2 linked regions of the Homo sapiens genome follow. The protein of the gene in region 1 interacts with the protein of each later gene in a pairwise test. Each region holds a gene or a part of one and is shown on either strand. Other genes may lie near its edges.

Region 1 (5,071 bases):
AAGGTAGAACTGTGTCTGAAATCTGTTAAGGATAATGTTCAGATGTGTAATTTCCCAACTACCTCTACTGTCCTCTTCAAGTTCAGTACGGAAAAAGAATCTTGTAAGTCACATTTTACCTAAAACACACAGGATTTCTAAATGTACTGAACTACATTTCTACTGAATTCATCTGAGAGTTAACTATGGAGCGTCATGACATCAGGATCCCTACTGGAGGGGCCAGCGACCAGGGACAAGTCTAACATTGTCACTAACATGGTATGTGCCATTGGCCAAGTCACTTCACCTGTCTAGATTGATAGATGATTGCAAAATCTTATATTTTAAATAAAAAAGGAAGGAAATGGTGTCTCTTGTTTCAGTGAGAATAAAGTCAACTGTTAATTTTGTGTCTTGATGTATTTCCCCGAAGACTCAGTTTGTATAAACACTTGGATGACAGCTTTCCCTCCCTTTTAGCCTGGTGTCTCCCTGCAAGACATCTACAAAGGAGCAGTAAGCCATGTCTTCCTCTGAATTTTACTAAGGAACAATCTCCATGCCTGTTTACCCCAGATAAACAAGAGGAAAACATGAGCAAACACAACCTGTCTGGGACAGGCTTTACGTTCTTCCCAGCCTGATCCTGAATGATTAGCTGAAGTACATATTTTCTTTGCTCCTGCATCTGCCCTTTCAATAGCAGGTTTGAGCTTCTGAAGCCCCACCCCATCTTTTAACTCAGCCAAAGAACACTCCACTACAACTGACCCAACAGTGCTGGAATCTGTCAGGGAAGGGAAAGCAAATCTGCAGAAAATGCCACTGGCCAACCCTCTTCCCCAAAAGAACCCTCAGCCCAAGTTTCATTTAAACAGGCCCCCAATCCTCCCCGCCCCCAGCCCAACGCCCTAGAGTAAGGGATACAATGGGATATTATCAAACCAATTTCCTCAGTGACTGAAAACTTAGAACTGGATCTAGACAAGAAATAACAGGATAACTTAAAAACAGTCTATCGGGCGCGGTGGCTCACGCCTGTAATCCCAGCACTTTGGGAGGCCGAGGTGGGCAGATCACAAGGTCAGGAGTTCGAGACCAGCCTGGCTAACATGGTGAAACCCCGTCTCTACTAAAAATACAAAAATCAGCCGGGTGTGGTGTTGCGCGCCTGTAATCCCAGCTACTCAGGAGGCTGAGGCAGGAAAATTGCTTGAACTCAGGAGGCGGAGGTTGCAGTGAGCTGAGCTCGTGCCACTGCACCCCAGCCTGGGCGACGGAGCAAGACTTCGTCTCAAAAAAAAAAAAAAAAAAGAAAAGAAAAAGTTTATCACAACTTTAAAATGTCCATTAGGTTTTCTGGAACTTCAGTGAAGGATCATATTCATCTGTATACTTCAGAAAATGCAAAAACAAAACCTTTTAAATCTAAAATATATATTAGATTTAGGTATATTATATACATGTGCTATATATAGTATGTAAATATACATTGCATGCATATTTATATACATTTTTCAATACTGGAGAGTGACAAGAGCAGATAGAAATCTTTAACCAACGCTCGCTGGTTCTCTGTATAGTAAGAATCATAAATACCAATGGTCACCTGAAAATGGAGTAACTGGGCTTTTAGGATGTCCAGAAGGAAGAGACAGGAGACTTTGCAGGAAACAAATAAAACCTGAAAGACAGCTACACTTATTGAGCCTCTACTATATGCTATACAGTCTGCTGAGTACTTGATACACACATCAACCCAGCTAAATCTCAGAAACCCCAAGAAGCAAGTCTTCTTTTCTTCAATTTTCAGGTGATGAAACTGAGGATCAGAGAGGTTGAATGACTTGGCCAAGATCATGTAAACAGTCAATTGGAGAGCTGGCATTTGACCTAGTATAACTTACTTTGAAGCCCAAGAGTTTAATCACTGTGCTAAAAACTGTACACGGTTTATCATTCCCAAAGAAGAACTTTCACTCCATCTCCTCCCACTCAAAAAATATAAGATCTCAAAGCAAATCTAGAGACTTTTCTGATAATCTGCACATCTGGCCATTCCAAGTCTTTAAACTAAAGTTGTCTTTTATGTATGGATTAAGATGTCTGACTGTAATAAACCTCGCCCATCTGATTCCAGTCTACCTGCCTAACTACAGCTCCACCAAAGCAAATCTATTACTTCCCCAAGGTATTCAACCCTGAGCAGGTTAAAACTTCACCCTCCATACAGAAGAACTGCTTCCCAGAGACTATGCCAAATCCAGGGGCGCTTTTAGTCACTGGACATTTCAAAATACATGACAGCACAGATTTAGCAAAATAAGTCCTATTGTTTTAGCCCCAAACATATAAAACAAATATCCTGTAACTCCACAAATTGAAAAACTGCAAAAAAAAGTAGGCAAACATTTTGGCAGTTCTGAGTAAGGAAATGTTTGTTTTCCCTCTTGTGGTCACACAACAAATGGTGAAGAGATAAACATCAGTAACATCAGCCTTTTCCCTAATCCAGCACCAACCAAATATTTATTTACATCTACTTTTTGAAGGCCTCTTTCTCGCCTTTTCCACACCAACATGTCAGCAGGTGTCCCAGATTAAACTGTTGAATATCATACCCGATTGTTTAAAAAACACCTTTTGACGGGACCTGTGGCTGGTTATTTTTTAATTAGGGTTTGAAATCCTATACTGTGTGTATTTAGCCCCCTAAGAACTAGAGCCAGAGAAGGACGCCTCTGCGGAGTGGGTTGCCCAGTGGGTGGGCGAGAAGGGAGCCCCCGGTTTCAGAGGGGCTGCTGCGAACTGTACTTCCTGCGCCGCCCCCTCCCCAGGTAACTTACCAGGATACCCATCACGTCGGTCCAGAGTCGGGAGAACGCCTCGGATGTGCCAGCACCCGGCTTGGGCTCCGGTTCCGGCTCCGGCGCGGGCTCGGGCTCCGGCTCGGGCTCGGGCTCAGGCTCCGGCCCCGGGCCAGCTGCTCCCGCGTCCTCCATGGCCGTGTCCCGCGCGCGGGCCGTGCGTCCCAGTCCCCGCGGCGCCCTCGCCCCGCACCCGCGCGCAGCCTGCCCGGATGCCGGGTCCCCGCCCGCGGCGTCACCGAGCCGCGCCCCCGCGCTGCATGCCCCGGCGGCCCCGGCCACCCCGCGGGGGCCCTTCGCAGGCGCCCGCACCTCGGGTCTAGGTGGCCACGGGCTGCGCGACTGACAACTCCAGAAACTTTCCCACCCCGCTCGGCGCAGCAACAGGGTAGCAGGAGGCAAAGTCCGCACCACTGAGTTGTACGGCGGGGAATTCGCTCGGCCCAGAAGCAATTAAACCCACTGCAAAGGCGTTTCTTCCTGTGACGGGAACCAACTAACTAAGGCACGCGACTCGTTCCTTCTAGCAAGTCTTGGCAGGACCCGGCAGGGGTGGCCGCGGAGCCTCTAGATCTTGGAGGGAGCTCCCCGGGACCCCTCTCTTCAAAATGAGCTCTTCCAGCTCCACATGACTCTCTCCCTCGAGGCTAAAGAAAGCGTTTAGCAACAAAAGGTGCTCTGATGTCAGGCTCTTTGCATGGAAATGAGCCTCGGACAGGAGAACAAATCGCCTGTTGAAAGAGCAGCCGCGCCGCGGTCTCCGGCCCGCACAAGTTTCCAATCACGCTATTCACGGAAACGCTTTTGGTAACGGAAACCCGAGAAAGTTAATCTTTAAGCGACTCCCGCCCAAAGGCTTCACAAGTAGTCCGTGTCGCTACAATGCATACCTCGCCCCTCGTGAAGTCAAGCGACCCAAGGAATTACAAATCCTGCCTCTGCCAGCCAAGACTTCTCTGCAAAACAAGTGTGAAAGCTTGGGCACGAGCCATTGTTTGGATCATTTTTTATGAGTGGGGGCATTTTGGCTCCTGAATGCCCACAATGCCATGCATTGCTAGGGCTTTCGGCTAATTAAGGGAAATGCGCTTTGGGTTTTAATTATTCCTTTACATTAGGGACACAGGGAAGGGCTATTTTCGAAACTAAATTCAAATGATTGTGTAGCCAGTCAGCCTACACACACTTGGGGCCCTGTGTGTGTTTTTCCAAGGGGAAGCCCCAGGACAGATTTATTTTATAAGGGAACTAGCCCTGGAGAGGTGATTTTTCCCTTTTGTGATTCTATCTTTCAAGACTACTCAGAGTTTTCCTTGGAAGGTGACAATGCACGTCACATTCGATTTGGTGATTGATCACTTTTGAAACAGTTAAGAAACCACATGGAGTTTGCTCCTCTGTTAGGGCCTTGTGGTTTAAAAGGAAAAAAAAAAGTGAGATGCCCCAGGGAGAGAGCCCTGCTTGTTTTGAGGCCTCTCCTGTTTCTTGTTGATTGTGGGGTTTTTTTTGTTTGTTTGTTTGTTTTGTTTTGTTTTGTTTTGTTTTCCTTCTGAGTCCACTTGAAAGGGGATAAGAGCATGTCCTTGAATTCCCCTTGTTCAAGTATTAAGTGCTGTGAGCACCAATCAATGCAATGGGTGAATAGTCCTTACAGGAAAGTTCAAAATGTAAAAACATTTTCAAAAGTAACTAAATTTATAAACACAATCCCTGATAATTTTTGTGTGTTTTTGGCGGGTGCGGGGCTGGCGCCTGTAATCCCAGCACTTTGGGAGGCTGAGGCGGGCGAATCACTTGAGGCCAGGATTTTGAGAACAGCCTGGTCAACACAGCAAAACCCTGTCTCTACTAAAAATACAAAAAAAAAAAAAACAAAAAAAAAAAACAAAACATAGCAAGAGTGTTGGAACATGCCTGTAATCCCAGCTACTCAGGAGGCTGAGGCAGGAGAATAGCTTGAACCCAGGAGGCGAAGGTTACAGTGAGGTCCTGCTGCTGCACTCCAGCCTGGGTGACAGAGGAAGACTCTCTGTCTCCAAAGAAAAAAAAAGTATGCTGAAAAATTTTTTTAGAGACAAGGTCCTGCTCTCTCACCCCGGCAGTGCAGTGCTGCAATCGTAGCTCACTGCGGCCTTGAACTCCTGGGCTCAAGCAATCCTCCTGCCTCAACCACCTGAGTAGCAGGGACTACAGGCACACCGCTGCACCAGACTAATTTTTTA
Region 2 (4,407 bases), on another chromosome or scaffold:
CCTGGACTGTCTCCTGAGGGCAGGCTCCGCACTCAAAATCGTGTTGACAGGCACCCGTTTAGGAGTGGAGAGGGACCCCACCCCCCAGCTGTCCTCTCCAGCGCCTGTTTCCCACTTGGCCACTCCCAGCTCTGCCTCCAGGAAGGGTGAGGGCACGGGTGCACCGAGGGGTTGGCGTGTGTGACCCTGAGCTCTGGGTCAGGGCAAGCTCATGCATGGAGCAGGATCACGGCAGGTTCCTGGAGATCAAACGGCAAAGGCTGTAAACCAGGAAGCCAGGTCTTGCCTGGGCTCAGGGGCAGGCACTGGGCCCGAAGGAGGAGGGCCACTTCCTGCCAGCCCTCCACCGAGCTCACCTATGGCGCCTCCCCAGGAAGTGCTCCGGCCAGCCCAGGGTAAACACGCTAGCCCTGCCCCTCTGGGACCATAGCCCGGGGACCCAGACTCTTGGCCACGCTCATTCCCACCCCTACCCAGGACCGGCAGCCGGAGCCTTGGGTCCCTGCATGGGCCTGGGGCGCCCTGTGCCCCTTCACCTCGTCCTCGTCCAGTTGACTGCTGTGGCAGCCGGTGCTACCCGCTGTGTCCACTGCACCCTGGCCCTGTTCTGAGCGGTCACAGCAGCTGGGGAGAAGGGCCATCCTGGAAGCCGGGCAGATGAGGACGGAACCAGACAGTCCCACTGTGGTGGGCAGAGGTGGGGCCTGGGCCTGACCACGGGGCAGTGCAAGGAGAGAGGCATCCTGAGAGGGCCTGAGGTGTCCCCACCTCCCCTGACACCCCATCCCTCAGTGCCCAGGCTGGGCAGAAAGGGGGGCCTGGAGGAGCAGCTGCACTGTGAACTCAGGGCTCCAGGCCTGGGGTGGGCATGGCTGGGTCCTGCCTGACACCCACCCACTCACCGAAGCCTCTGCCCCTGGGCCTGCGGTGGGCCCGGTAAGGGAAGTGACTCTGCCCCATGCCTGGGGCACCTGAGGGGTGCACCTGGCCCGGCGGAGGCTCTGACCTCCCCAGGGCTGGAGCCCTCCCCAGCAATGCGCCAGCGCTGCCCCCGAAGTCCCATTGGCAGCGTTCCCCCGTCCCCCGGCCTGCTGGGGCGCAGCTAGGCCCTGCCCAAGGAAGAGCTCGAGGCCTCGCCCTGCTCATCCCGCGGAGGCGGCCCTGCGCCCCGCCTGTCCCCAGCGCCCCAGCTCTAGGGGCTAGGCCCGCGGAGGGGCACACCAGGCGGGTGTTGGGGAGGACGCAGAGGGCTGGGGCTGGAGCCCAGGCGGGGCAGGGGGCGGGGCGGAGCTGGGTCCGAGGCCGGCGGGGGCGCCTCCATCCCACGCCCTCCTCCCCCGCGCGCCCGCCCGCTCTCGGGTGACTCCGCAACCTGTCGCTCAGGTTCCTCCTCTCCCGGCCCCGCCCCGGCCCGGCCCCGCCGAGCGTCCCACCCGCCCGCGGGAGACCTGGCGCCCCGGCCGAGGCGCGAACAGACGGACGCACCGGCGAGCGCCGAGGGGACAGGCCGAGCGCGGGGCGCCGGAGGCAGGTGAGCGCTGCGGACACGGGGGAGCGCGCCCGCCCGGGCCTCAGTTTACCCGGTGGCGATGGGACGCGGGGCTTCTGGTTCAGGACACCGGGACGAACGCGGCGTCGCAGGGCGCGGGGCACTTGGAGGGCGGCCGGGCCGAGGGCGCGGGGCAAGGGGCTGGGGGCCTGGTCGAGTCCCCACCTCTCCTGGACGGGTCCTGCTGCAGCCCGGCCTGCCCCCGTCGGTCCTGGGCGGCGGCCGGCGAGCAAGGATATTTTTAAGCCAGCGATGGGTGACTCACCTGCCCCGTCCTGCCCACTCCCAGCTCTGGGGCTTGGTGGGGGCAATCCCTGCGTCCGGAGAGCGCTGGTGGTAGGGAGGCTTCTCCCGGTTCTGTGAGCAGCAGGACCCTCCCGAGGGCCTGACCGTGGAGGTAGCACTGCACACCCACTCCCTGTGGGCCGGAGCCAGGAGGCACTTCCTGGGTGTCGGAGCCCAGAAGGAAACCAGTGGCCGGGAAGCACCAGCTGGGTCAGTCTCCAGGTCAGGGTTGGGGGTGGGAGTTTCAGGGAGGAGGGGAGGCTGGGACAGGGGCTGCAGAGGCCCTGCCAGGAGAGGCAGGAGGGTGGGCTGGCAGGAGCCTGTGGGCACGCGAACTTCAGCCATCCTAGATTCCTGGTCCCTGCGTCCAGCTGCCTGGCGTTGCCCCTTGCTGCGGGGTGTCCCTGGTGGCAGGGGAGGGGGAGGCAGGGCCGGGCATGCCCGGACCTCTGCCCCCACCCACCCCGTGCTCAGTCCTGGGTCGGCTGTGCTGGGAGGCAGGCCCAGCTGGCGGCGGCCCCTCCCCTCGCGGCCCCTCCTCCCCTCGCGGCCCCTCCTGGGTCCCAGCCTCTCCCGGGCCTGCTTAGCACCCAGGCCTTGTTGGCATAGCTCTCCCACCGGGCCTTCTCCGCCTGCCTCGGTCTCCTTTCCCACCCTCAGCTTCCCCAGCTTATCCCTTCCTCCCTCAAGCCATAGCTTCCAAACAAGGACAGGGCCAGGGCCTGAGGGGCCTCCCCATTCCAGGGCCCCACCCAGCGCCTATGAGGGCAGCCTGGAGCCCCTGTGACTCAGCTGACCCCTCCCCAAGGTCACTCAGCATGTGGAGCTGGAACTTGAACTTGGAGCCCGTCCCTCTACCCTCCTGCCCTGCTGGGACCTCCTCCCCTCCACAGCCCGACTGACCGGGCACCCCGCTCTGCCTCACTTCACACCGGGAAAATGACCACAGTACAAAGTGCAGCCTGGGCCTCCAGGGCTTCGTCCCCACCACCAGTGGGCCAAAGAAGCCTCCCCAGGGGGGCGGGGCTCCCACAGGGCAGGAGGCAGCCCCATACCCATGTGCTTCAGACCCAGACACCACACCTGGACCCACCCCACTGCTGCCCGGCCCTGCCTGGGCCTGAGGTCCCCGATGCCCTGCAGGCAACCGAAGGCCAGGAACCTGGCCTTCCCCAGGGGGGTCGCGTGTCACAGCCCTCCATGTTTGCGTGCCCCCAGGCCTGAGTCTGCAAGGGTGCGTTGGTGTCTCGCCCAGGTGTGTGCCTGGACACACGTGCCTGGCGCCCTTGGTGGAGCCCGCCAGGAATCCCATTAAGCAAACACTCAGGCTCGCCACTGAGCCCGTGAACATTCCAGACATTCTCCACGGATAGATGGATGGAGGAAGTGGCCATACCCCCTGGTGCACCCAGCCCCTCATGTCAGCGGCAGTGCCCCCGGGCCTCCCAGACCCTCCCACTAGGCCAGACCTGGTCAAACCAGAAAGTCCCGGGTGCTCCGAGCCACTCCCTTGACCCTCCATACCAACAGCAGTGGCTGGTGACCCCCACCGTGGCAGACCCAAACTCTGAAGCCACAGGGGACAGCCCTGCAGCCCTGGCAGGAGGCAGATGGTGTGGACCTGTGGGGAGCTGATCACAGAGCCACAGAACAGCCAGGTCCCCACAGGGCATAGTCCCCTTGGGACAAGTCAGCCTGGTTCAGGGCCATCAGGCTCTGTCCATCCCCCCGGGAAGCCCCTAGGGTCCAGCCCAAATCAGACCCACCTGTCTGCCCTGGCGGCTGGGCCTTAGTTTCCCCAAAATGCTCGGGGAAGAGGTCAGCACTAGGAGCCCAGAGACAGGCTCTGAGGATTCTGCCCCTGGGGGAGGCCAGAGGCACCTGCCCCATAGCCACCCTACCTCGTTGGAGGGGCAGTGATACTGTGTGTTGGGGCCACTGGACTGGCTCCCAGTCTCAGCCCCCACCACACCTGCCCTCCAGTCCCTCCCCTAGGCTTGGCTGCTGCCAGGGGTTCTGCGCTGGCCACCTGGCCGCATCCCTGCCCTCGAGGTGAGGAAACACTGCACCCCGGGGACCCCAGGGTTTCCTGCCCGCACAGCCTCTTCCCTGCCAGGTCTCCCAGGCCCAGGAAAGAGCCAAGGGCCAGCCTCTTTGCTGGGGCCTGGACAGAGGTGGCATGTGTGGGTGGCAAGTCCACATGTGGGTGCAGGAGCCCCTTGGGGTGCAGGCCTGGGGTGGGGCAGGAGTGGCGGCTAGAGCCGGGCTCCCTCTGGACTTCAGGACCTACCCCAACTCCAGCCTCACCTCTCCTGCCATCCTGCAGCTCCCACCCGCCCTCCCCCAACCCCCACCGCACCCCCCTCCCCCCACACTCCCACCTCATCCCCCTCCCCTTACCCATCCCACCCCCCTCCCCACAGCACCAGGGCCTTAAACTCCATGCTGCCCAGCTTGGAAGGCGCCTTCTGCCCCCAGGGCCCTTGTCAGAGCCTCCCAGTCAGCCTCTGGGGGGTCCCTGTGGAGCACCTAGGGTCTGAGGCATGACGAGGCTGATCGACTGTCAACTGGGA

Evidence for each region. The genes of interacting proteins can lie anywhere in the genome.
Region 2: the proteins of SASH1 (region 1) and EPS8L2 interact in a two-hybrid assay, tested with the Homo sapiens proteins (one large-scale study listed by BioGRID).

Annotation. Positions count from the first base shown.
Region 1 is NC_000006.12:148,340,981-148,346,051, reverse strand, and holds the start of SASH1 (SAM and SH3 domain-containing protein 1), read right to left. Parts: upstream 3,215-5,071; 5' UTR 2,985-3,214; coding exon 2,829-2,984; intron 1-2,828. UniProt on the Homo sapiens protein: Is a positive regulator of NF-kappa-B signaling downstream of TLR4 activation. It acts as a scaffold molecule to assemble a molecular complex that includes TRAF6, MAP3K7, CHUK and IKBKB, thereby facilitating NF-kappa-B signaling activation.
Region 2 is NC_000011.10:704,758-709,164, forward strand, and holds the start of EPS8L2 (epidermal growth factor receptor kinase substrate 8-like protein 2), read left to right. Parts: upstream 1-1,473; 5' UTR 1,474-1,531; intron 1,532-1,814; exon of another isoform or gene 1,815-2,326; intron 2,327-4,407. UniProt on the Homo sapiens protein: Stimulates guanine exchange activity of SOS1. May play a role in membrane ruffling and remodeling of the actin cytoskeleton. In the cochlea, is required for stereocilia maintenance in adult hair cells.